3 separate regions of the Homo sapiens genome follow, and all the other regions are linked to region 1. Evidence: fine-mapped QTL for protein levels in blood plasma. Region 1 holds a variant in brackets. A gene starts in each other region. All regions are shown on their reverse strands. Region 1 holds the start of LOC105374570 (a long non-coding RNA gene). Region 2 holds the start of OSM (oncostatin M). Region 3 holds the start of MMP9 (matrix metallopeptidase 9).

Evidence for each region. A credible set is the group of variants that fine-mapping cannot tell apart. PIP is the chance, under the fine-mapping model, that this variant and not a neighbour inherited with it causes the effect. Protein levels are from antibody-based Olink assays in UK Biobank. Linkage for the fine-mapping came from a reference panel and not from the study's own genotypes, which makes the PIPs less certain.
Region 2: OSM starts here. The variant in region 1 is the best candidate, but not a certain one, in a credible set for the plasma level of the OSM protein (UK Biobank, PIP 0.74).
Region 3: MMP9 starts here. The variant in region 1 is the best candidate, but not a certain one, in a credible set for the plasma level of the MMP9 protein (UK Biobank, PIP 0.53).

What each region holds. Positions count from the first base shown.
Region 1 is chr2:43,126,941-43,137,505 of GRCh38, reverse strand. It overlaps LOC105374570 (a long non-coding RNA gene), which reads right to left and starts at 9,110. Exons shown (of 3, transcript XR_940018.3): 1 at 9,044-9,110; 2 at 7,517-7,876; 3 at 5,132-6,452. RefSeq lists enhancers at 3,128-3,197, 2,709-3,470, 3,638-3,687, 3,471-4,234, 6,333-6,392 and 1 more and a silencer at 5,793-5,842. The variant T/A (reference allele first, on the strand shown) is at 4,580.
Region 2 is chr22:30,266,397-30,275,740 of GRCh38, reverse strand. OSM (oncostatin M) reads left to right here and starts at 8,890. Exons shown (of 3, transcript NM_020530.6): 1 at 8,890-8,975. The coding sequence starts at 8,942.
Region 3 is chr20:46,007,502-46,011,539 of GRCh38, reverse strand. MMP9 (matrix metallopeptidase 9) reads right to left here and starts at 2,632. Exons shown (of 13, transcript NM_004994.3): 1 at 2,476-2,632; 2 at 1,442-1,674; 3 at 909-1,057; 4 at 490-618; 5 at 224-397. The coding sequence starts at 2,613.

The DNA of each region.
Region 1 (10,565 bases):
ACAAAGGAATTTGTCTTTTACTATGAATAAGATGAAATCACAGAGGCTGGCGTGGAGGAGGAGAGCAGTGGCTGCAGGGTAGGCCAAAGACTATAGTGGGAGCAAGAAGAGGCAGGGAGACTGGTGGGAGGGTGGCCTGGCCAGGGGCGTCCCACTGGAGGTGGGAGAGGTAACTGAATTCTGAACAGTGCTTTGGAGTTAGACAGGACTTTCCTGTCAAATCACAGGATATCAATTTGGCATGACAAGCAGGTGTTATCAAATCCTCATGTTATAGAAGACAGCATCAAACCTTGGCGAGGCTGGATGACATGCATCGTGTCACGTAGTTACTAAGCAGTGTCTTTCTGAAGGCAGGAAGGTTGCGGGGTCTGTCTGAAGCTGACAGTAACGGATGTGTGGTCTGCACGTGGGTGTGTCTGTAAGTCTTGCCTTTCTCTGGGTCTCCATATCTGTTGTCACCCCATCTCCACCCCCTACTGCCACCTGTCAGCTTCTGCTCTTCTTACGCATTGCAGACACATCTTCATCTTCTCCCAAGCCCATTTCTAAGGGGCCTGTATGTTTCTGGTGCCCAGAGTGTATGTGGGCGACCGTTGTAGCATCGGCATGCCTCATAAGAGTGTGAATGCCCCAGTGTGTGTGTTTCTGAGTTTGTGTGCATTACTTTGGCTGTGTGTGAGGTGTGTGTGCATACTGCTGGCTGTGAGCACCTATAGATGGGGGGCTTAAGGGACTGGGTGTGTGCACGAGAGTAAATGTGTGTGCAAATGTGTGAGCACATGGAGGTATCCTCTCTCCTCCTTCAAATTTGCTCCCATCCTGAAAAGCCCAGGTCAAGCCCACTTCTGCAAGAAGTCCCCTCACTTTTCTAGGCCATAAGAAGCCCTCCACCGCTGACATCCCACCACCCCCTCTGTCAGAATCACACACTCCGTGGCTTTGATTGCTTTCGAGTGGATCTACCTCCTAGAATGCCAGCTGCCCACATGCTGCAGGGCAAAGTGGACATGCAGGCGCACATCCCTGCCCCTGTTCAACCATCAGGCTAGACCTCCTGGGGTCACCTCCCCCAGCCCCCCACGTGAGTTGTTTAATGGTGCTTTGGAGAAGGAGGGGCAGCAGCCTCAGTAGGGTCTAGTAAGCAGGCCTGGTGGCCTCCAGCAGGCAGACGCAGGTGCGCAGAAGTGGCTGTGTTCCAGGCTCCCTTCCTCCCTGTGGGTAGCAGCTGAGTCCAAGCTGTAGAATGGAAGTCTACACTGCACTCTGTCAGTGAGCTCCCAGGGTGGGCTCGTGGGGGTCCTGGGAACGCAGAGACTTGGCCCTCTAGAGAGACCTGCGGGCCTCAGGGTAGCTGGTCCCATCCTTTGCTCCCTCCCCTGCACCCTCTAGGGGCCCCCACACTGGGCCCCAAAGCAGGGCTCCTTCTGATGTAAACCCCTCTCCTTCTCTTCCTCCCAGGGCACTGGTTCCTCTGTGAACCCTGTGGCCTCTTCTGTAGGTACTACAGGGTCCTTTCTCTTTAATCCACTGGAAATCAGGCCTTTGCTGTTAGCCTGAGTTGCCCGACAGACTAGAGAATCATTTCAGCCATGAGCCGAGCCATCCTCACATGGACCGCACTGGAAATCCTGGAGGTGTAGGGCCAGTTTAGTCCCCACCCCAACAGCCTGCCCTTCCCCCAGTCCTGGCCAGGCTCCTGCCTCAGGCCTTTTGTTCTAGCTGTTTCCTCTGTCTGAAATGTTCTAGCCCAGACTCTGCTTGGCTATTCCTTCCCCAAGCTCCTGTTGAAATGTTGGCCTCTTCATGGGGCCTCCCTGGAGCACCCAGCTTAGTACGGTGACCCGAGTGAGTGCACACCCTCGCACCCACCAGCACTCCTCATCTCCCAGCCCTATCTGCTTCCTCTTTCTTTCCATGGAACCCACTGCCTACATGAGGATTATAGAATGTAAGGCTGGGCGCAGTGGTTCACACCTGTAATCCCAGCACTTTGGGAAGCTGAGGCAGGAGGATCCCTTGAGGCCAGCCTGGGCAACATAGTAAGACCCGTCCCTACAAAAAAGAAAACGAAAATTAGCCGGGCTTGGTGGTCCCAGCTACTCAGGAGGTTGAGGTAGGAGGTTCACTTGAGCCCAAGAGTTTGAGGCTGCAGTGAGCTGTGATCCTGCCACTGCACTCTAGCCTGGGTCACAGAGGGATACCCTATCTCAAAAAAAAAAAAAAGACAGAAAGAAAGGAATGTATTTATTCTGTCTATTGTGCCTCCCCAACAAAATGTGGGCCCCAAGAGGGCAGGAATCTTTTTTTTTTTTTTTTTTTTTTTTTGAGATGGAGTTTCGCTTTTGTCACCCAGGCTGGAGTGCAATGGCACGATCTCGGCTCACTGCAACCTCTGCGTCACAGGTTCAAGCAATTCTCCTGCCTCAGCCTCCTGAGTAGCTGGGATTACAGACAGATGCCATGACGCCCAGCTAATTTTTGTATTTTTAGTAGAGACGGGGTTTCACCATGTTGGCCAAGCTGGTCTCGAACTCCTGACCTCAGGTGATCCACCCGCCTCGGTCTCCCAATGTTCTGGGATTACAGGCGTGAGCCACCACGCCCGGCCGAGGGCAGGAATCTTTACTTTTCTCGCTGATGTCTCCCAAGTGCCCAGAACTTGCCAGGCCATTTTAGGTGCTCCATAGACATTTATTTAGATTGTCGCTGGCACTGGAGCTGAGAGCAGAGAGAAGCTTGAGGGAAGAAGGGGGGTCCTCAAAGCCATGGCTACCCCTCAGAGGGGAGGCAGGGGCAGGGGAAGGAGCGGGGCCGGGCGGCCACCGGATCTCTGGACCCCTCCACCCCACTTGCCCTCCTCCCTCGGGGGTGGGGGGGCATGTCTGCCCTGCACACGCATGTTGGCACACACCTGCGTACCCTGCATAGGTGGCCCCACCTCCCACCTAGTCCAGATGCATGCGCGGCTGACGTGGCTGTGGTTTTGAGGCCCCAGAGGTACAGATTAGAGTCAGGGCGTCTGTCCTTTTCGGCTGCAGGAGCAGGGTGGGATGGGGACAGGCACTCCCTGCAAGCAAGCACCCAGAGGCCCTTTCTCCCTGACCTCTTGCACACACATGTGGACAGACAGGTGGTCCCCCAGGCTGGCTGTCCTTAGACCTCAGGCCCAGGAGCTGTGCACCTATCTATACTAGGCCTTGTTGCAGGGGAAGAGGGGCGGCAGAGGAAGTGGCTGCGGGCGCCCTTCCTAGCGTCTGAACTTCCACCTTTAGTGTTTGTGCCCGACACATGGGCGCCCAGCTTTGTTTGTCAGTTCTTTCCTTTGAGGGAAGCGTTATTTCTTTTGCCTTCTCATGTCAAAACCACATCCCTGCGGGAGGGTTTCACATTCAGCCCTTAGTGGTGTTGAGCTTGTCTGCCCAGGCCTCCCTCACGCGCACACCATGTGGCCAGTCCTGGGGAGCATGCCGGTCCCCTGCTCAGAAACCTGCTGCTGCCCAGGGCCTACCAGGTCCAGCCCCGCACTCAGACCCAGTGCTCGAGGCCCTGCCCTGCCGCCTTCCCTACCCCAGGCATCCTGCTTTGCGGGCAGATGTGTGGCCTTGAGCCAGGTGTCCAGGTTCAATGCCAGCACTGTATGACTGGCAAGTCACTTAGCCTCTTTGTGCCCAGGTTCTCTTCCTCGCAGAACTATTGTGAGAGTTAAGTAGGTTCACATATGCAAAGTGCTTAGCACAGCACCTACTGTGCAGGTAAGGTGTCAATTAATATTAGCTGCCATGATGATCATTTCCTGCCTCAAAGTCAGGAGGGCCTGAGAAATGGCTTTGTCAGGGCTTTGCAGCCCAGCTCTGGCCTCCCAGACTGAGCCAGCTGCTTCCAGGTCACCTGGGAGCTTGTTGGAGACTCAGAGTCCCAAGCCGCTCTAGGGGTTGTGACACAGCAGCTGTGGGCTGGGCTGGGGTGGTGGGGCTGGGGGCCTCACACCTGGGCCTGCAGGCATCTGTGGGACAGGAATCCCCTGCAAGGCCCTTCCCCAGCCTCAGGCTGGTCCACCCACCCGAGTCTTTCCAATTCTGCTTCTCCAGATCCCCTGTGCCTTGCAAGGTTCCTGTCCTGCAGGAAGTAGGCCCACAAACCCTGCCGCCGACACCCCACAACCCCTCCTTCCTGGAGCCTCAGTTTCCTCAAGTATGAAAGGGGATAAAAAATGCCCACATCTCAGGATTAACATCAAGCAAGGTCTTAGATGAAAAGCACCTGGCCCATGGCAGCCGAGAAGGCTAGTTATTATTACTGCTATTGGTGTTATTGCCCGCACCCTGCACCTGCTGAGCACCTGCATGTTCCTCTGGGTTCCCGGCAGGGTCTAAATGCCTAAACTCACATCAGGTGTTAGGGAAGTTGTGTTGACCAGGGTGGACTCTGATTAACCTTCCACCTCCTTGCCTTGGGCTCTTGGAGCTGAGAGGGAGCACCATGGCTGGAGTCTGAGTGTGGCTGGCCCTCACTCAAAACAGCCTGAGTGAAGGAGGAAGGAAGAGAGGTTGAACTGAGTGGCTTGGGCCCCAAAGGA[T/A]GTTGAAAGCTAGGCCGCGGAGTGACAGTTCTTGGGGGCCCCACTGTAGCTCCCTGCCCGCCCCACCGGCTGCTGTCAGTGGGAAGTGCACAGGCCCGGGGTGGGTAGAGGTAGGGTCCCAGCCTGGGCCAGCTCCCCGGGCCCTGCCACTGCAGACCTGGGCAGCCACCAGAGCTTTGCGTCTTGGGGTCAGCATTGCCTTCTCCAGGCTCCTCCAGTGGAAGCCGCCTCCTCACCGCACCCCCAGGCCCCACCTCGCCCCACCTCACCCCACCTCGCCCCACCTCACCCCACCTCGCCCCACCTCACCCCACCTCGCCCCACCTCACCTAGGCGCAGCCCCAGAAAATATCTATGAAGCACTCACTTCATAGATAGCACCTGTGCCAGGTGGTTTCAGTTCCACAACCTCATTTAATCCTCCACAATTCCCTGACATTTTATAGGAAAGAAAACTGGCTCAGAGAGGCTGAGTAACCTGCTCAAGATGACACAGCTTGTGGGTGGCTGAGTTGGCCTTCCAACCCAGATTCCTGTCATGTTCCTCAAGCCGACAGGTGGGTGAATTTGTGCTGGAAGAGACTATGCGACTAGGCCTCTTGTTTGTTGGGGGAAGAAATAGACACCCTGCACTGGGAATTGAGCGCCCCAGGCCATGCCGCAGGCTCCTGGCAGAACCAGGACGGGTTATAGAAACTTCTTTTGGCATTGGGTGCCAATGGGAGGGGCTCTGCCGGGAAGGCTTCCTCCTTTGCTGCCTCCAGGTCTCCCCTCAGAGGCCACCTCCCCACAGAGAAGCCTTTCTGGCAGTCCTAGCTGAAGTAGGGCACTATCACCCTCTATCCTGGGCTGGCTTTAGTTTTCTTTGTAGCACTTATTGTCACTTGCAGTTTTATGTATCCAATTATTTATTTATTGGTTCTCCCCCATGCTAGAATATGAACTCCATGAGCTCCAGGAGGGTCTGTCTTGTTCCCTTGCCTAGAATAGTACCTTGCACAAACGCCACAATTTTTTTGTGGAATGAATGAATGAGAGTGTCAGGTGATAAAGAAGCAAGCATACATGGGGGAAAGTTTGGTGTGATAATTCTGGTGGAGGAGGGAACTGAGAAGTAATTTACAAAAGGGAAGGGGCAGGGCCACTGTGGACAGCCATAGCATCTGGCACGAAGACTGCCAAGTGAATGGTGCCCCCTGCAGTTGGACAGTTCTCAACTTGGACAACAGTCCATGGTGCCCTTAAGGGTGGGAAGGGACCATCCCCTCAGCAGGGACTGAGGGAGAAGGGAGCCATGAATGGGGCAGGTCTGCAGGTGCCCTCAGCGGGAGGAACAGGCTGTTCCCTCTGTAAGGACGCCACGTGGTTGCGGTTAGCAGTTTGCCATCCGGTGTTGTCTCCACAGACAGTTGTCCAACCAGGGAGGGGGCTACTGCTCTGCTGTGAGCAATCGCTAGTACCTGGAGCACCCAGCAGGCTTCGGGCAGGAAAATCACCTGACACACCCCACAAACACACACCAAACACTGTGGACAAAGATAATCGCACAGGCAGAGGGGGGCTGTTTCCTGAGCCAGCCCCGGGCTCAGAGGTGGAGGACACTGTGTACTGAGGTCTCTCCCCTGAGCAGGGGCCTCGGTGAGGAACTTGTCACAGCTCTGTGGCCTGCCCCCCTTCCTCCTCCCCAGCCCCACAGGCTGGGCACAACAACAATCACCTGGCGATCGCAGGCCGTCTTCAGTGAGTCACCCTGCCCACAGTGAGCCTGGCTGGACGATGTTATCAGCTCCCCTGCTTACTTAATTCCTTGGGTGACATCACCACCGCCTCCGTCTTCTCCTTCTCGGCACTGTAGCCTGCAGCCTGGCATATCCTGGAAGGGAAGGCGGTGGAGGTCTCTTGCCAGAAACTACCAGGGCAGGTAAATTGGAACCTTCAGTTCCTTGACCTTTAGCCCCAAGGGGCTTGCCCTAGTTTCTTGCTTTGCACACAGGGGCCTCAGTTTACCTCCCAGGAGATGCTGTCTGCAGTGAAGCCCTGGGAAACACATGGCACCTCTACTCTGTGCTCATTCCCTCTCTCCTTGTGCAGAGGGGGTTTCCTGTTGGACAGAGGCCAAGCTGCTTGCCCTTCAATGTGTCCAAGTTTATCCTGGGGTTGTACCCCCAAGTCCAGCCTAAGTTCTGTCTCGCGTGGACACAGCTGCCTCCGAGCCTCTGTGATGGGCCTTTGGGTTCCCAGGCTCTCCCAGGCTCAGATGGGGCAGCCCTGCTGGCCTTCTACCCGCCTCTGTGTCCGGCCACCATGACCTGGGACTCAGCCCCTCACCTCCTGGGAGCCCAGGCCAGCCCTTCCCCGCCACAGCCTAGCATTCCCTTTTGCGTCCCCTCACCTTCACCCTTGCCAATACCGACCTGCAGGCCCAGTGGCACATGGGAAGTGCTGTAGGGTCAGTATAGCAATGACAGAAGTGACTGGAGATGTGTGTGGTTCCCTTTCAGCCTGGCCTCCTCCTCTGCATCCCAGTGGGATGAGGGAGGGGATTAGTTCCTCTCTCTGAATTGTCCTACTCTACCCCCTCCCCACCATTTGAGCGGGACAGCAGAGAGGGGAGACTGAGAGGCCCCAGGGAGGGGCTGAGCACAGGCCTCTCTGGCTGGACCTCGGTCTGTGATGGGAAGCTGCCCAAGCCTGGCATGTGAGGGAGGCAGCCAGGGGAAGCCGGTGGGGCTGGGCAGGGACAAGAGGCAACCCTCTGAGCTGCCAGACAGCTTCCTCTATGACCCTCAGGGGACGGTTCCTCCAATGGCACTGCCAGAGGCTGGGGAAAGAGGTGTCTAAACACCAGTCACTTTTGCTCTAGTTATTTGACCAAAACGAATTGTTCCTTAGAAGGAAAAAGAAAAAAACAAAACCACGAAACCCAAAAAACCTCACCATTGATGTCATGCCGATCACCCCGTGGGCTGATAAACAAGTCCTGGAGCAGATAGCATCCCTGGGCAGGGTGAGCACCCCCCACTGCACCCTTCCTACGGGAAGCTCATCGGAGGTCGGCCTCGCCACTCTGCACACAAACACTGCTGCCCCCTCCACATCCTGGAATGCTGTAGAATGCTGTTCCAACCTTCTGGAGTGGGGGGCCCCAGAGAGAGGTCAGAGCAAGCCTGGGCTCCTCCCCACACATGCCACTCTCACTGGACTGATGTTTCCTCACCTGTTGAGTGGAGGAGTGATAGAGGTATTAAGTATGAAGGTTCTTGGAAGTGTTCACTGGCCAGCCAAGAGGCTGGGGCCCTGCAGAGAAGGGAAAGGGGAGAGGGAACATTTCAGAGAAGAGATCCCACCTCAATGATTTAAGGTCAGTTGACAACATCTGGCCTCAGAGCTGATAGGGTCCCTTTAAGTCCTGAGCTGAGTTCTTATGAATGCTTCTAGGGAACTGCACGCCTTGAGAGTGATTGGCACCATTGCTGAACTCGGCCTGTGGTCTGCTCAGACCCTTGGCTCCTTCTCCAAGTTCTAGAATACAACCTAACCAGAGTTAATGGGTGTTCTTTCTGTTGTACTTCCCTACTTGATTGCAGACTAAGCTCAAATTCTAGTCCACCCTGATGGCTTCCCTCAGTTGAAGTGTACAGCCTGACTTCAGCTCTAGTTTGAGCCCTTATTCCTCTTTTTTTTTTCTTTGAGATGGAGTCTCACTCTGTCACCCAGGCTGGAGTGCAGTGGCATGATCTTGGCTCACTGCAACCTCTGCCTCCTGGGCTCAAGCGATTCTCCTGCCTCAGCCTGCTGAGTAACTGGGATTACAGGTGTGCACCAATGTGCCTGGCTAATTTTTGTATTTTTATTAGAGATGGGGTTTCACCATATTGGCCAGGCTAGTCTTGAACTCCAGCCCTCAGGTGATCCTCCCGCCTCGGCCTCACAAAGAACTACCACTCCTGTCCTGACCCCTTATCCCTCTTTAACTCTGAGCTCAAAGCTCCCGTCCACTTCCATAGCCCATACATACCTCACACTCATTTGTCCCAAACCAAACTTGTCTTTCTCTCACCAGCACATTCCTCCACTTGAATGCTACATCTTAGCTCACAGTCACACTGTAAGCCATCATCCACACCAGAGGCTGAGCCACCCCTGACCACTCCTTCTGTCCAGGGCATCTTATTGGCCCTCTCATCTGGTGAGTTCTAACGCTTTGGTGTCTTAAGGCTTCATCCCCTCTTCCTCATTCCTCTCCACCCCTCAGTTTCTATAGTAATTTAGATCCTCATCTCTTTCCTTAAGAACAGCCAGCGGAACCAATCAGAACTCCGAGGCCATCCTCGCACAGCTGCCAGGGGCTCTTTTCTGATGCCATGGTGCCCCCCTCTCAGTGTCTCCCTGCCTGCCCCTCCAGCTTCATGCTCTGACCCTCCTGGGTGCAGACCATGTGCATCTGGAAACAGCTGGGCCTACCTGCTTCATTACCAGTGCTCAGGCTGCTGGCAAGGCCCTCCTCTCCTCCTCTTCCCCCTTCACTGCCTCCTCCAGGAGGCTTTCCTGACTGGAGACACATGGCTGGTGCTCCTTCCTCCATGCCCCTACTCTGTCCACTTCCTGCTGAGCATGCTCCTCCCTGGGGTGCCTTCCCAGTTACAGACTCAGCCCCGACCCTGGCCACAGACAGGGCCTTCTTCTCTCTACCTAGACTGTAGCTCCACCAACCCTATGTTGTGGCTACATACCAGGCAGACCTGGGTGTGGGTATCCCGTTTTACCCACTTCCCACTGGGGACCTCGGACAAGTGACTTTCTCTCTCTCGGTCTTCCTTTCCTCATCTGTCAAATGGGAGGATAACATAACCTGCCTCCCAGGGTGGGTGGTTGGGCCTGGCACACCGTGAAGGGCAGCACAGGGCGTCCATGCGGCACCCGCTGTTTTGATGACTTGCTAGGACCTGGGAGAAAGTGCAGAGGGACCAGGTCTCTCCAGCACAGTCCTCCTGTTCTTCCCCCTTTCTGGCTGTCTGTGATCTCCACCCAGCAGAGGGCTTGGGCGAGGCCGCCTCTTCCCCTCTGCAGCACTTCCTCCCCAGGACCCAGTGCTGTCCACACCGGCGGCAGGGTCCAGTGTCAGACTCGTTCTCAGCCGGGGACTGTGTGGGCTGCCGCACTCCTCTCCCTGGTTGCAACTGCAGTGCTTTGCTCAATAAGGCCCCAAGGGTTGCTGCAACCACACGGGGACTGAGCCGCTGAGGTGGCACACAGTACACCAGTGGCTTCTAGCTCCAAAGTCCAGATGCTATCCACTCTGCCCTGCTGCTGCCCCTTCTGCCTTTCTTTTGGCATCTGAATGACCTTAGTCTCCTCATCTGCAAAATGGGCATAATAATTGCTTCTCTTGCTTCCTCAGCCAGAGGACAGGGAGAACAATGGGGCTGGGCTGGGAAGTTGTGAGGAGGTGGAGACCTCGCTGTGTGCAAGGCAGGAGAGCCTGGCTGGGCGGGGGATATGACAAGAGTTGCTGTAGGGAGACCTCACCATCCATCCAGCCGCCTCCCATCCTTGGCCAGAGCCGCGTGTCTGAGTCCACAGCGCCCCCTGCTGGCTAGCCGGCCCAGAAGCTCCCTGTGGGCAGCCCCAGCCCCACACGGCGTTTCCCCGCAGGGACCACGCGGAAGGAGCGGACCCTGCCCTCAGGGAGCCCTATCGGAGGAGGGACGTGCAGCCAGGCCTCAGGGAGCCCAGACGGGGCGTGGGGAACCGGGGCTTTTGTCTGAGAAGGGAGCTCCCGAGGTCAAGGAGCATACCATTCTGCTCTGAGGAACCTGCTGAAATCCTTCTGCGGAAGGTCTAAGGCCTGCCAGGGAGCCAGTGGTCAGCTCCAAGTCCAGCAGCCATCCCTTGATTAGGGCTGCCCCCACCCCGCTCCCATCCCACATGGACTTTGAGGGAGGGACATCGGGCAAGGACAGACCCTGGGAAATCAGGCTGGGGC
Region 2 (9,344 bases), not on the chromosome of region 1:
GGCCTGGGTTGAGAAATGGGTGGTCCATCAGTGGGTTTTCCAGACCCTTCCATGTGCCGGGTGTTGGCCCTTGTATGCACATGTGTGAGCGTGTGCGTTTACTCACCCTTCAAAACCTGGCTATAAAAAGACATTCGGTGCAGATTCATTTGACCGGAAGCCTTTTCCTTCTCTCTGATTTATCCTCCACATCTAGCCTGTGCCCAGCACACACAGTGGGTACTTAAATATAGGTCAAATGACAGACTGAGAACCCACTGTGATTTGTCTGTTTTTGCAAAAGGTAGGACTGCCCCCTTCCACGAAGACCAATCTCTTTCTATGAGACCATCAGGTGCCACTCATGTGGAATTCATTCTGAAGTGAACCCTTTAAAAGAAGCACCAGTGGCTTTTTCTTTTTTAGTCAATTTTCCGGGAAAGTGCTGAAATCTGCAGTGAGTGAAAGAGCAGATTTTGATTTCCCTTTAAAAAAATTATCATAAAAGAGAAACTCAGCGTCTTTGAAATTGAAGCTTCCCAGAAACAAAATCACATGCTCTGATGGACTGTGATTGATAGAGTTCTGATTCTTCGGGAGAGGGGACCGGGAGAATGCATGGAAAAGGGCCTGAGAGACTTGTTCCTGCCCACAGCGAGATGGCCCTGCACTTCCAGAGGCCTGGCTCTGGGTTCACCAGATGTGGGACAGGGACGCCTCTGGGTCCTGCAGCCTGGGAGCCACAGCTCACCTTTCCCCAGGCTTCTAAAGATGGCTGCAGCTATATGGCTGTGCATTCATCGGTTCACCAAGAATGTATGGAGAGCCTATTACATTCTGGGGGCTTTGCTGTGCTCTGGAGAGGCAATGGGGGTGGGGGCCACAACCACAGTATACACCCTCTGAGAGTTTCCAGTCTGGCTGGAGAGACAACCTCATAGTTTTAAAAATGTACACCTCTGAAGAGCGTGGTGTGGAGGGATACGTGGTACTCTGGGAGGGTGCCAGGAGGCGGGTTGGGACCAGCCTGGGGTGAGGAAGGTCAGGGAGGTCTTCCCTGAAAAGGTGCAGCGTGGACTGGACGTTGATATCTAGGTGGCAGGTCACAGGTAGAGTGCTCAGGAAGTGGGAACGGCATGTGCAAAGGCCCTGAGGTGAGAGCTGCTCCCGGAAGGACTGAGGAAGGCCAGAGAAAGGCAGGCAAAAGAAAGGTACTAGTGAGGCTGGGAGGTGGGCAGGACCTGGTGGCTGTGGTAATGACTTTGGCCTTATCAGAATGGCAATGGGAAGACAGGGACTGTTTAAGCAGAAGGACTCGACCCGGCTGTGTGGTATGAGCCCCTCCCTAGGGGCCGCAAAAGCAACAAAGCCTAGTGGGATGCCATCACCCCTCACTCCTCATCTTCCTCCCTGTCAGACTTCCAGCCACACCTGCCATTCTCTGAACTAGGCCTGTGCCGTCCTGCGCCCTGGCTGGCCTCCCACTGTGACAGGGAACCTCCTCCCTCTCCTGGCTCCTTCCCCAAGCTGTTGTTTTTGCTTTCCTCAAGCCACTTGGCAACATCAGTTCTGGACAACCCATTGGGCATGCGGGTCGATCTGGTGGCTCTAGGAGGGTGCCTGGGCTCCAGTGTGCCTTTGCTCCCTCCCAGGTCTCTGCCTCTCAGGCCTCAGCTTCACCATCTGCAGGACAAAATAATGATACTTGCCTCCTAAAGTGGTTACAAGGATTCAATGCTTAGGACTGGGACCAGTACGCAGAGGTTGCTCCAGAAATATTCCCGATAATGATGACTGGTACCCCATTCACCCAAACATTTTTGGCCAGACTCTGACGTTTCAAAATAGGCATGGTATGTTGTCATCACGAGAAAAGTCAGACTAGACTTCCTTATCTTTGTTTGATGCTGAGGGTAGTTTTTAGTTAGCATAGTATTTTAGTGCTTAGAGCCGCTAAGGGGCTCTGCCTGGCTCTGTAGGGTTCTGGGCATTCTGTGGTCATCTCACATGTCCCCTCATCTCAGGACAGGATCCTGGACTCAAAGAGAGCAGCAGCGGGGGTTTCCAGGCCAGCCAGAGAGTGGGCAGTGGTGGGGCCTTGTCTGAGGATCTTTGGATTCGGTTGCCATGAGGCAGACAGTTGGAGGTTACTGCACAGAACGGGGTTCCTTCTCCTACACCTGTGGGTGGACACTCCAGGTCCCAGAAGAACTCCGTGGAGGTTGCAAGCCAAGGGATCCCCCCTCCCATCCCAATGTGACCTCGATGACCTTCTGGGGAGGGTGCTTGGTGGCTCCTTGTTCACCCTGGGGTTTATGTAACACCGCCTTTCCCAATCTCCCTCAAAGCCACCGTGTGACATAAGCAAATGCCTGCCTTCGTCTGCCCTGGCGGCTGGCGGGTAAGTGTGACCGAGCACCTGCTCCAATGTGCCAGGCGCTCACGTACTCACCTCACTGCATTTTGCTGACTGTCCTACAAGGTGCATTTGCTACTGCATTTTAAAACATTCAGATACAACTCACCTACCAGCAATTGTATCATTTTAAAGTGTATGATTTGGGGGTTTTGGGTATATTCACATGGTTGTGCAACCATCGCCACTATGTAATTCCAGAATATCTTCATCACCTCCAAAGAAACCTCGTGCCCATTAGCAGTCTCTCCCCAGCCCTGGATGCCCCAGCCCCCAGCAGCCACTGGTGTATTCTCTGTGTCTCTCCATGTGCCTATTCCCGACATTTCCCATAGCAGAATCATACAACATGTGGCCTTTTGTGTCTGGCTTCTTTCATGCAGCATCATGGTTTCAAGGTTCATGCATGTTGTGGCACATGGCAATGCTTCCTTCCGTTTTGTGACTTAATATTCCTTTGTATGGATAGAACACATTTTGTTTATCCATTTTCTATTGACAGACATTTGGGTTGCTTCCACTTTTTGGCTATGCCGAATAATTGCTCCTATGAACATTTGCAAGTTTTTGTGTGGATGTACGTTTCCTTCCTTCCTCCCTCTCTCCCACTCTCTCTTTCTCTCTTTCTTATTTTTTTTGGCGTTTCGCTCTTGTTGCCAGGCTAGAGAGCAAAGGCGCGATCTCAGCTCACTGCAGCTTCCACCTCCCAGATTCAAGTGATTCTCCTGCCTCAGTCTCCTGAGTAGCTAGGATTACAGGCGTGCGCCACCATGCCCAGCTAATTTTTGTATCTTTAGTAGAGATGGAGTTTCACCATGTTGGCCAGGCTGGTCTTGAACTCCCGACCTCAGGTGATCCACCTGCCTTGGCTTCCCAAAGTGCTGGGATTAAAGGTGTGAACCACCGTGCTCAGCCTCTTTTTTTTTTTTGTCCAGAGACAGAGTCTCACTCTGTCACTCAGGCTGGAGTGCAGTGGTATGAATATGGCTCACTGCAGCCTTGACCTCGCAGGCTCAAGTGATCTTTCGGTCTCAGCTTCCTGAGTAGCTGGGACCACACAGGTGCAAGCCACCATGCTCAGCTAATTTTTAAATGTTTTGTAGAGATGGGGTCTCACTTTTTTGGCCAGGCTGGTCTTGAACTCCTGGGCTCAAGTGATCCTCCCATCTTGGCCTCCCAAAGTGCTGGGATTACAGGTCTGACCACTGCACCTGGCCTATGTTTTCAATTCTCTTGGGTGTATATCTAGGAGTGGAATTGTTGGTTATATGATATCTCTATTTATTTTTTTTTTTTTTGAGACAGTGTCTCACTCTGTCACCCAGACTGGAGGGTAGTGGCACAATCTTGGCTCACTGCAACCTCCGCCTCCCAGGTTCAAGCAATTCTCCTGCCTCAGTCTCCCGAGTAGCTGGGACTACCGGCGAGTGCTACCATGCCTGCGTAATTTTTTGTACTTTTAGTAGAGTTGGAGTTTCACTACGTTGGCCAGGCTGGTCTCAAACTCCTGGCCTCAAGTGATCTGCCGGCCTCAGCCTCCCAAAGTGCTGGGATTACAGGCGTGAGCCACTGCCTCTGGCCTCTGTGTTTAACCATTTGCGGAACTGCCAAACTGTTTTCCAATTTGGTGGCACCATTCATTGTAGATTCCCACCAGCAATGCCCCAGGGTTCTCATCTCTCCATCTCCTCGTTAGCACTTGTAATTGTCTACCTTTGATTATAGCCACCCTAGTGAATGTGGAATGGCTTCTCATGGTGGTTTTGATTTGCATTTCCCTGGTGTTTAGCATCTTTTCACGTGCTTCTTGGCCATTTGTATATCTTCTTTTTTTTGGAGAAATGTCTATTAAAATCCTTTGCCCATTTTTAAATTGGATTGCTTGTCTTTTTCATTGTTGTTCAGTTGTCATTGCAGTTTAAAAAGAGGAAACTGAGGCTCAGAAGGGGGACATGACTGGTCCAGGGACACTGGGCTCACAGGCAGATTGAGATGGAACTTGGGTTGGTCTCCACCTCCCACCCAGCAGATTGGGGGCCACCTTCTCTCCCCCCACCAGAGCACCTCTCCCCAGCCTCCAGTTTCGACCTGGCCCTGCCAGGCCATCTCAGGTCCTATCCTTGCATTTAAAGGCGTAGGGCCCCACAGCAGAGGGTAAGCCGGAAAGCGAGGAAGCAGCAGTTCTGAGGAACCAAGCTGGTCCTCTCTTCCTCTCCAAATCACGCGGGCCTGGCTGACGTGGCCCGGGAAGAGGGGACAGCCCGGGTCCTGTGGTCGGGGAGCCTATTTATACTGGCTGGGCCATGTTGCAAGCTTTTCCTGCTGGTGAGAGGGACGTCACTGATTGCTGACCTCACCAGAAACGCTGACGCATCTTTCCTCACGCTTGGCTGGGATGGTCAGCGGCCAGGCCTCCTCACCTCCGAGCCACTCCCTGTCCTCCTGTGTATCACTTCACTCTGGATGCTCCGACAGTGGCCCCAGCCCCTGTGCCCTCCAGCTATGCCTTCCTCTTGCAGGCTGCATGGACTGAATGGTGTCTTCCCTGAACTCATGTGTTGAAGTCCTAACCATCGTGTGTCAGAACGTGACTGTATTTGGAAGTTGAGCCTTTAAAGAAGTAATTAAGGGCCGGGTGCGGTAGCTCACGCCTGTAATCCCAGCACTTTGGGAGGCCATGGCAGGCAGATCACTTGAGGCCAGGAGTTCGAGACCAGCCTGGCCTACATGGTGAAACCCCGTCTCTACTAAAAAAATACAAAAATTAGCCAGGCATGGTGGTGGGCACTTGTAGTCCCAGCTACTCGGGAGGCTGAGGCAGAGAATTGCTTGAACCTGGGAGGCAGAGGTTGCAGTGAGCCAAGCTGGCGCCACTGCACTCCAGCGTGGGTGACAGAGTGAGATTCCATCTCAAAAAAAAAAAAAAAAGAAAAGAAAAAAAAAAAGAAGTAATTAAGGTAAAATTGGCCAGGTGTGGTAGCACATACCTGTAATCCCAGCTACTCTGGAGGCTGAGGCAGGAGGCTCGCTTAAGGCCGGGAGTTCAAGGCTGCAGTGAGCTATGAAAGCACCACTGTACACTTAAGCCTGGGCAACACAGCAAGACTTTGTCTCGAAAAAGAAAAAAAAAAGGAATAATTAAGGTAAAATGTGAGTGGGCCCTAATCCAATGTGAATGGTGTCCTCATAAGAAGAGATAAGGCCAAGCGCGGTGGCTCGCTCCTGTAATCCCAGCACTTTGGGAGGCTGAGGCAGGTGGATCACCTGAGGTTAGGAGTTCGAGATCAGCCTGGACAACATGGCGAAACCCTGTCTCTACTAAAAATACAAAAATTAGCCTGGCGTGGTGGCACACGCCTGTAATCCCAGCTACTCAGGAGGCTAAGGCAGGAGAAGCGCTTGAACCCAGGTGGCAGAGGTTGTAGTGAGCTGAGATCGTGCCACTGCACTCCAGCCTGGGTGACGGAGCTAGACTCTGTCTCAAAAAAAAAAAAAAATCGATTAGGCCACGGACAAGCAGAAGGAACATGATGTGGAGATACGGGGAGAGACAGTCATCTACAAGTCAAGGAGAGAGGCCTTGGGAACCAGCCCTTGATTTCAGACTTCAGCCTCTAGAACTGTGAGAAAATAAATCTCTGTTACGTAAGCCCCCCAGTCTGTGGTACTTTGTTATGGGAGTCCTAGCAATGTAATCTACCTGCTCTCCTTACCTTCAGTGACTCTGAGCCCTGGGCCCTGTGCCTGACACCCTCATTAACTATGTGCAAAGAGTATGGTCTTTGGGCCTCGTTTGAATGCCTTCTTTTCTTGGTGGGTTTTTTGTTTTTTGTTTTTTTTAAACAGGGCCTTGCTCTGTCACCCAGGCTGGAGTCCTGTGGCATGATAATGGCTCACTGCAGCCTCAACCTTCGGGGCTCGAGCGATCCTCCTGCCTCAACCTCCCTAGTAGCTGGGACTTCAGGTATGCACTACGATGTCTGGATAATTTATTTTTACATTTTCTGTAAAGACACAGTCTCGAAGTCCTGGGCTCAAATGACCCTCCTGCCTCGGCCTCCCAAAGTGCTGGGATTACAGGCGTGAGCCACCATGCCTGGCCAAATGCCCCTCTCCTCTTAACTATTCATAGGTGACCTCAGACAAAGCAACCTCCTCTCTCTGCCATGAGGAGACAGCACGGCCTCCCTGGACCACAGGATAGATAGAATAAGATAAAGGCATGTGGCTGTTTCTCACCAAGCGTGGTGGTCGGTCAGCCACAGCTGAAAATGGCCTAGACCCCTCTGCTCAGATCTGGCGCTCCTTCCTTGAGCCAGCCCCTAAACTTCCCAGAGCTTCGAGCTCCTCACTGAAGTGAGCTGAGGTGTCACTGCCCAGCGGCTTCTCTCCCCTGGCTGTTGCAGGATGAGATCGGTGGCTGGGTGCTGTGGCTCACGCTTGCAATCCCAGCACTTTGGGAGGCCAAGGCAGGAGGATCATTTGAACCCAGGAGTTTGTTATCAGCCTGGGCAACATAGTGACACCCCGTCTCTACAAAAAATAAAAAAATTAGCTGGGCATAGTGATGCATGCCTGTGGTCTCAGCTACTCAGGAGACTAAGGCGGGGAGCCTTGCTTCAGCTTAGGAGCTGGAGGCCACAGTGAGCTACCTACAATGGCGCCACTGCACTCCAGCCTGGGTGACAGAGCAAGATCCTGCATTTAAAAAAAGAGAAAAAAAGACGAGATCAGGGATGTGAAATGGAGAAGGATCCCCTCTTGGCATGGCCCCAGGAAACAGCATTGTGGGGGTGGGCACAGAGATGAGGACTTCAGCGGAAGCGACATTCTCAGGATGAGAATCCAGAACTGGCCCCTGGGGGTGGTGAGGGGGAGGTATGAGGCCTGGTGTGGTGAGTCCCAGCCTGGGTGCCGGGGAGTGGGTAGGGGCTGAAGAGCAGCCTCCTGGGCGTGGGGTCGCCTATTTTTGCCTACTACGTGATCCTCAGACCTGGGAGTGGCTGGTGCAGCATGGAGCCAAATAAAGGTTTGTCGAATGAATAAATGAGTGATGGGGAGAATGGGTGGCAACTGCCTTGGTGGCCACAGTGGGCATCGGGAGCAGGCATGGACAGGGGTGCATCCAACCTCCTCCTTTCTGGCTGCCCCAGCTCTCCTTGCTCAGGCGCCCCAGACCCCATGCTCCCTCCAGCTGGAGCAGCTCAGGCCTCCCTGGCAGCCTCCAGGAGTCCCACCCTGACTCCCCAGACTCCTGAGGGCCTCCTCCCACCCGGGCTTCTTAGGGTGCAGGCCAAGGACCCTCCTCTGGGCCTGGGAGATGTGCTGACCAGGCAGGGTCTATAGGCCTGGGCCAGCCTCTTGGCCTCCCTGTCTGCCTTCACCCAGGCCTCAGTTTACCCCACAGTAAAGTAGCAGTTTGACTAGGGAGGCGCTGTTCCCAGGGCCCTTTCGCAGAGGACCAACCTAAGATCGCTATCTTTCAGAGAAAGTGAAACCTGGTCCCCAACTGTCAAGGCGGCAACTCCCCCTCCCCGGCTTCCCCTCTGAGCTCACAGCTTCCCCATCTCCTCCTTCCCCCATCCCGCCCCCTCGACAGCTAATACTTGGAATCAGACCTTCATCTTTGCTTTTTCCTTCAGAGGTCTTTTCCTTTTATGTCCATGCTGGCAGCAACCCTGTGAGGTGGGCTGGGAAAGGCTTTTCTCCTCCTCATTTTATAGTTGTGGGTCTCTGAGGCCCAGAGAGGTTAAGTGACTTGCCTCAGGTCACACAGCACCTCAGCAGGCTTGAACCCTGGCCTCCTGTTTCTCTTGCTCCAAGTGTCCAGTTCTCCCCAGTGGAGCCTGCCTACAAAGACAAGGCCTGGCTTTGGGGAGTGGGCCTGGCAGAGGGTGCACGATGGGGGAAAGGAGACCGTCGGGAGCCGGGCTGGGGGATGCTGGTCCTGGGGCCTGAACCACAATCTCGGGGCTGCCAGCCTGCGTCTGGCTCTGTGCCCAGAGCCCGGTGGTTTCCGCTCACAGATGTCCCAACAGCCCCGGCGAGAGGGCAGGAAGGGCACTCAAGAAGGAAGATGTCTCGCTCCCCTCAGCCCCCAACCACCGTGTCCTGTGAGGCCAATGGCTCCTGGGCCAAGACTGGCCTGGGGCCTCCAGAGGCCCAGCTCGAAGTCCCTCCTGCCCATCCCTGGCCCAGTTCCCTGAAGATGGCATGGACCCTTTTCCTCCCCACTCACCCTAGGAAGGCTGAGGCTGCGGTTTTACATCATCCTTGGGCGTAGGGCTGACCTCGAAGAACGAATTCGAAGAAAACAGGAGGAGGAGCGGGCATACACCGCGCCCTGCGCCCATTGGCCGCCCGTGGAAATTTTGGTTTTTGGGGTCATGTTCCCAGAAGGCCTGCCCTCCCCCCTCCCCATCCCCACCCACCTCATGAGGTGTTGGCCAATCGCCCCAGCGGGCATAAAGTGGCTGCCAGCCTGCAGGGCTCCCAGCCGAGAGGTGTCACCCCCAGCGGGCGCGGGCCGGAGCACGGGCACCCAGCATGGGGGTACTGCTCACACAGAGGACGCTGCTCAGTAAGTACTTCCTTCCTCCCCGCCAGAACCCGCCTGCTGGGTCTGCCCACGGGTGCCGGTGGGGAGCAGAGGCACCCTCTGCCCTCCGGGAACTGGGGAGGCCAGGCGCCAGGCAGAAGGATGCTGAGAAGGGGAGAGAGCCAGGAGGTCAGGCAGAGAGAGTGGTCCACTGAGAACCTGGCATCTCCACAGGTAGAGAAGGGGCATCCCTGGAAGGCTTCCAGGGGGAGGTGATGTCAAGATGTAGAGGCAACTCTGGGAACCAGGGGGTGAGAGAATAGGATGGGCAAAGAGGCTGGGCAGGAGAGGGAGGCTCAGAAGCTGGGCAGGGAAGTGGTGTGAGGTGTGGAGGGGTTGTGGGGCCTCCAG
Region 3 (4,038 bases), not on the chromosome of region 1:
GCGGAGACAGCACATTATAACCCCCAAGTGTGTCCTGTTCTTTGACCCATGGATGGTCTGCAGTTCATCCCATCTCTCATCATTTCTCAGATGAGAAAATTGGGCCCAGAGTGCGGGAGGGTGAATTGCAGGCCACACAGCACTAGTGGCAGAGCTGGAATTAGAACCCAGGACCATCAAGGGTGGTGGGCGCCCCCAGCCCTCGGCGAGCCCCCTCACTCACTCTCGCTGGGGCAGAAGCCAAACCGGTCGTCGGTGTCGTAGTTGGCCGTGGTACTGCACCAGGGCAAGCCGTCGGAGCGACCGTCGGTGGTGCAGGCAGAGTAGGAGCGGCCCTCGAAGATGAAGGGGAAGTGGCAGGCCGCGCCATCTGCGTTTCCAAACCGAGTTGGAACCACTGCAGGAGGAGGGGGGACCGGAGTTAGGGCGGCGGGTGATGAGTGGGAGAGAATGAAGGGAATCAGGGGCCAGGAGGACTCAGAATCTCACCGACGCCCTTGCCCAGGGACCACAACTCGTCATCGTCGAAATGGGCGTCTCCCTGAATGCCGGGGCCAGGAGGAAAGGCGTGTGCCAGGAGCCCGTCCTTCCCGTCGAAGGGATACCCGTCTCCGTGCTCTGAAGAAACAGGTCGAGAGGAAGAGGGTTAGCCGAGTACTGCTGCGCAGATTGTGCGCTGCCCAAGGCAAGGGCTCCGAAATAAGTGCGGGCTGAAATCCCGCCTGCGCGAAGCTCTCCCAGCCTGGCGCCCTGGCCCTGTGCACTGTCTGGCAGGAGGGGCCGTATAAGCCAGGGCAGCGCGGGCAGGCAAGAGGAAGCCGGGGCCACTGCTGCCTCCACGCTCTCCGTGGTCCTCCCTTCCCTGACCCCGCCCAGGTCTCTTGGATTTTCCCTCCTCACGTTCTCACCCGCGACACCAAACTGGATGACGATGTCTGCGTCCCGGCTGTACACGCGAGTGAAGGTGAGCGGCGTCACCGCGCTCCACAGTGCGAAGGCGCGGGCAAAGGCGTCGTCAATCACCGCCCGCGGCAAGTCTTCCGAGTAGTTTTGGATCCTGTAGCGTAAGAGCCAGAGGAAGGAGGTCAGAAGTGAAAGGCTGGAGCGGGGCAGCAGGGACACCCCATATCGCAGAGACTTCAACATACACAATGCTCTCTGCCGTCCACGCTCTCATCTATAAATTGCTTCCAGACTGTTTTTTTTTTTTTTTTTTTTGTCTACTTAGACCCTCACAATGGCCCTGGCAGGAGGACTTGGATTGCAAGAGCCATTTCCCTGAAGGAGAAACAGAGGCTCAGAGGTGGGGACACTCCCCAGGGGCCACACATTAAATAGTGAAACCCAGGGACGCGTCCAAGACAGGACATGTTCACCGCTGGCCCAAGAGCCAGACCTGGCCTCCCCGCCCCACCCCGCTGCCCCCACGGCCCCGGCTCACCAATAGGTGATGTTGTGGTGGTGCCACTTGAGGTCGCCCTCAAAGGTTTGGAATCTGCCCAGGTCTGGGACCCCGCACCGTGGGGTTCGCATGGCCTTCAGCGTGGCGCTATCCAGCTCACCGGTCTCGGGCAGGGACAGTTGCTTCTGGAGAAGCAGCAGCGCAGGCCCCAGAGATTTCGACTCTCCACGCATCTCTGCCACCCGAGTGTAACCATAGCGGTACAGGTATTCCTGTGGATGAAGGGACACACACATGCCAGATCTCTGACCCCTTTCTCTGCCCAGCTGGGGCCAAAGGACTCCCTCCAGACACTCATGGAGGGAGTCTTTTTTCTTTTTCTTTTTCGGAGAGACGGTATCAGCCCACTGCAGCCTGGACCTCCTGGACTCAAGCGATCCTCCCATCTCAGCCTTCTGCATAGCTGGAACTACAGGTGCACATCACTGTGCCTGGCTATTTCTTTAATTTTTTTGTAGAGACAGGATCTTACTATGTTGCCTAGGCTGGGCTCAAACTCCTGAGCTTCAGCGATCCTACCACCTCAGCCTCCCAAAGTGCTGGGATTACAAGTGTGAGCCGTCATGCCCAGCAGGGACTAACATTTAATAAAGCATTAAATGCTTTCCAGACACCAGTGCTTTCTGACCACCCAGGGATCTCCCCTCCTTAGACATCCTCAGCTCCTTCTCACCCCTGGATGCCTCTAGCCCATTTCTACCCCACAGCTGCATAAGGTTTGCCCCTGTTCACTCCCAGCCTATGCTTACCCCAGAACCCTCCAATGCCTCCCCCACCCCAAACCATTTCCCATTTCCCACCTAGGAAAGCCCCATTGCCCATTTCTGGCCATCACTGCTCAAAGCCTCCACAAGACCCCCCACTGCCTAACCCTGGACACCTCTGTTCTTCAGATACGCCCATCACCACCAACACACCCCTAAAGCATCTCCTCTGAGGCCCTGCATCCTCTCTGGGACACTCAACACCCTCACGGACAGCCCTCCCCAACTCTAGACTAGGTGTTTGCCCACCTCTGCCAGCTGCCTGTCGGTGAGATTGGTTCTCAGGTCTCCAGGGAAGAGCACAAGGGTGGACTGGCGCTGTCTGGGGGCAGCAAAGCAGCAGCCCAGCACCAGGAGCACCAGGACCAGGGGCTGCCAGAGGCTCATGGTGAGGGCAGAGGTGTCTGACTGCAGCTGCTGTTGTGGGGGCTTTAAGGAGGCGCTCCTGTGACCCCACCCCTCCTTGACAGGCAAGTGCTGACTCAGGGGTCAGGGTGTGTGTGTGTGTGTGTGTGTGTGTGTGTGTGTGTGTGTGTGTGTGGCAGCACCAGCATGAGAAAGGGCTTACACCACCTCCTCCTCTCTCCACTGCCCGCAGTCTCCACTGCCAAGTCAGGCAAGACCCCAGACCCGCAGGAAACCGCAGGCCCTCAGGGGAGGGGTAGGGTTTTGCAAACTGCAGAGCTTGTGGGAACTGTATGAAAGGGAGGGAGGGGGATGAAGCTGGAGGGATCCCCCATCCCTTGGTCTGAAAGCCTCCAGTGGTCAGCCAAGGGAAAGTGATGGAAGACTCCCTGAGACTTCTTTCTGAAACTAATGATCCCCCTGGCCCATCCTTGGCCTTTTGCAACACCCCCTCCCAGGTCAGATATCCTCCCCAAACCCCTCCCCACACTCCAGGCTCTGTCCTCTTTTTCCCTCCCTGACAGCCTTCTTTGACTCAGCTTCCTCTCCCTGCTTCATCTGGGGGCGGAAGGAATGGGCTCTGCTAGGCAAGGCTGGGGAATTCCACTGGGGCAACCCCCTGTCTTCCGCAGGCTGAATCTTCAGGGCAGTAAAGGGGACAGTAGCAGCCTCTAGAAAACAGCAGACATGGCTTTACTCTCTTCCTTCAGGACCTCGGGCAAATGTCTTACCACTTTGAAGTGTTTCCTCAGCTGTAAAAAAAAAAACGGGGGGTGGGGGGCTCTTTGTCCCTAAATTGATGTGAGGATTAAATGAGATCAAACATATAAAATGTTTAGAACACTGTAGGTTGTAAGTCCGCAACGGATGGTGGTGATTGGTTTTAATTACTAAGGCCAAGACCCAAGATTCAGGGCCAGGTATGGTGGCTCATTCCTGTAATCTTAGCACTTTGGGAGGCCGAGGTGGGAGGATTGCTTGAGCCCAGAAAGAAGGTCAAGGATACAGTGAGCCATGATTATGTCACTGCACTCCAGCCTGGGCAACAGAGCGAGACCCTGCCAAAAGACCATGATTCTAACTTGGAATCACCAAACCAGGTTATTGGGCTCTAAGCTGCAGTGTAACCTGGAGTAAATGCCTTCCCCTTTGTCAGCTTAGGATTCTTCAACTGCAAATTGGGGCAGGATATGGGGGAAAATAATCTATAGGAGCCCTTTCAGTTCTCCAGCCCTGCTCCATGCAGCCAAATCTCCAGCCCCAATTATCACACTTATGCCAAGCCTCCCTCCCAAGCCTCCCACACCAGCAGCCTCCCTCACTCCTTTCTTCCTAGCCAGCCGGCATCGGGCAGGGTCTATATTCACCTTCTTCAAAGCCCTATTTGGGAAAAACCTGCTAACAACT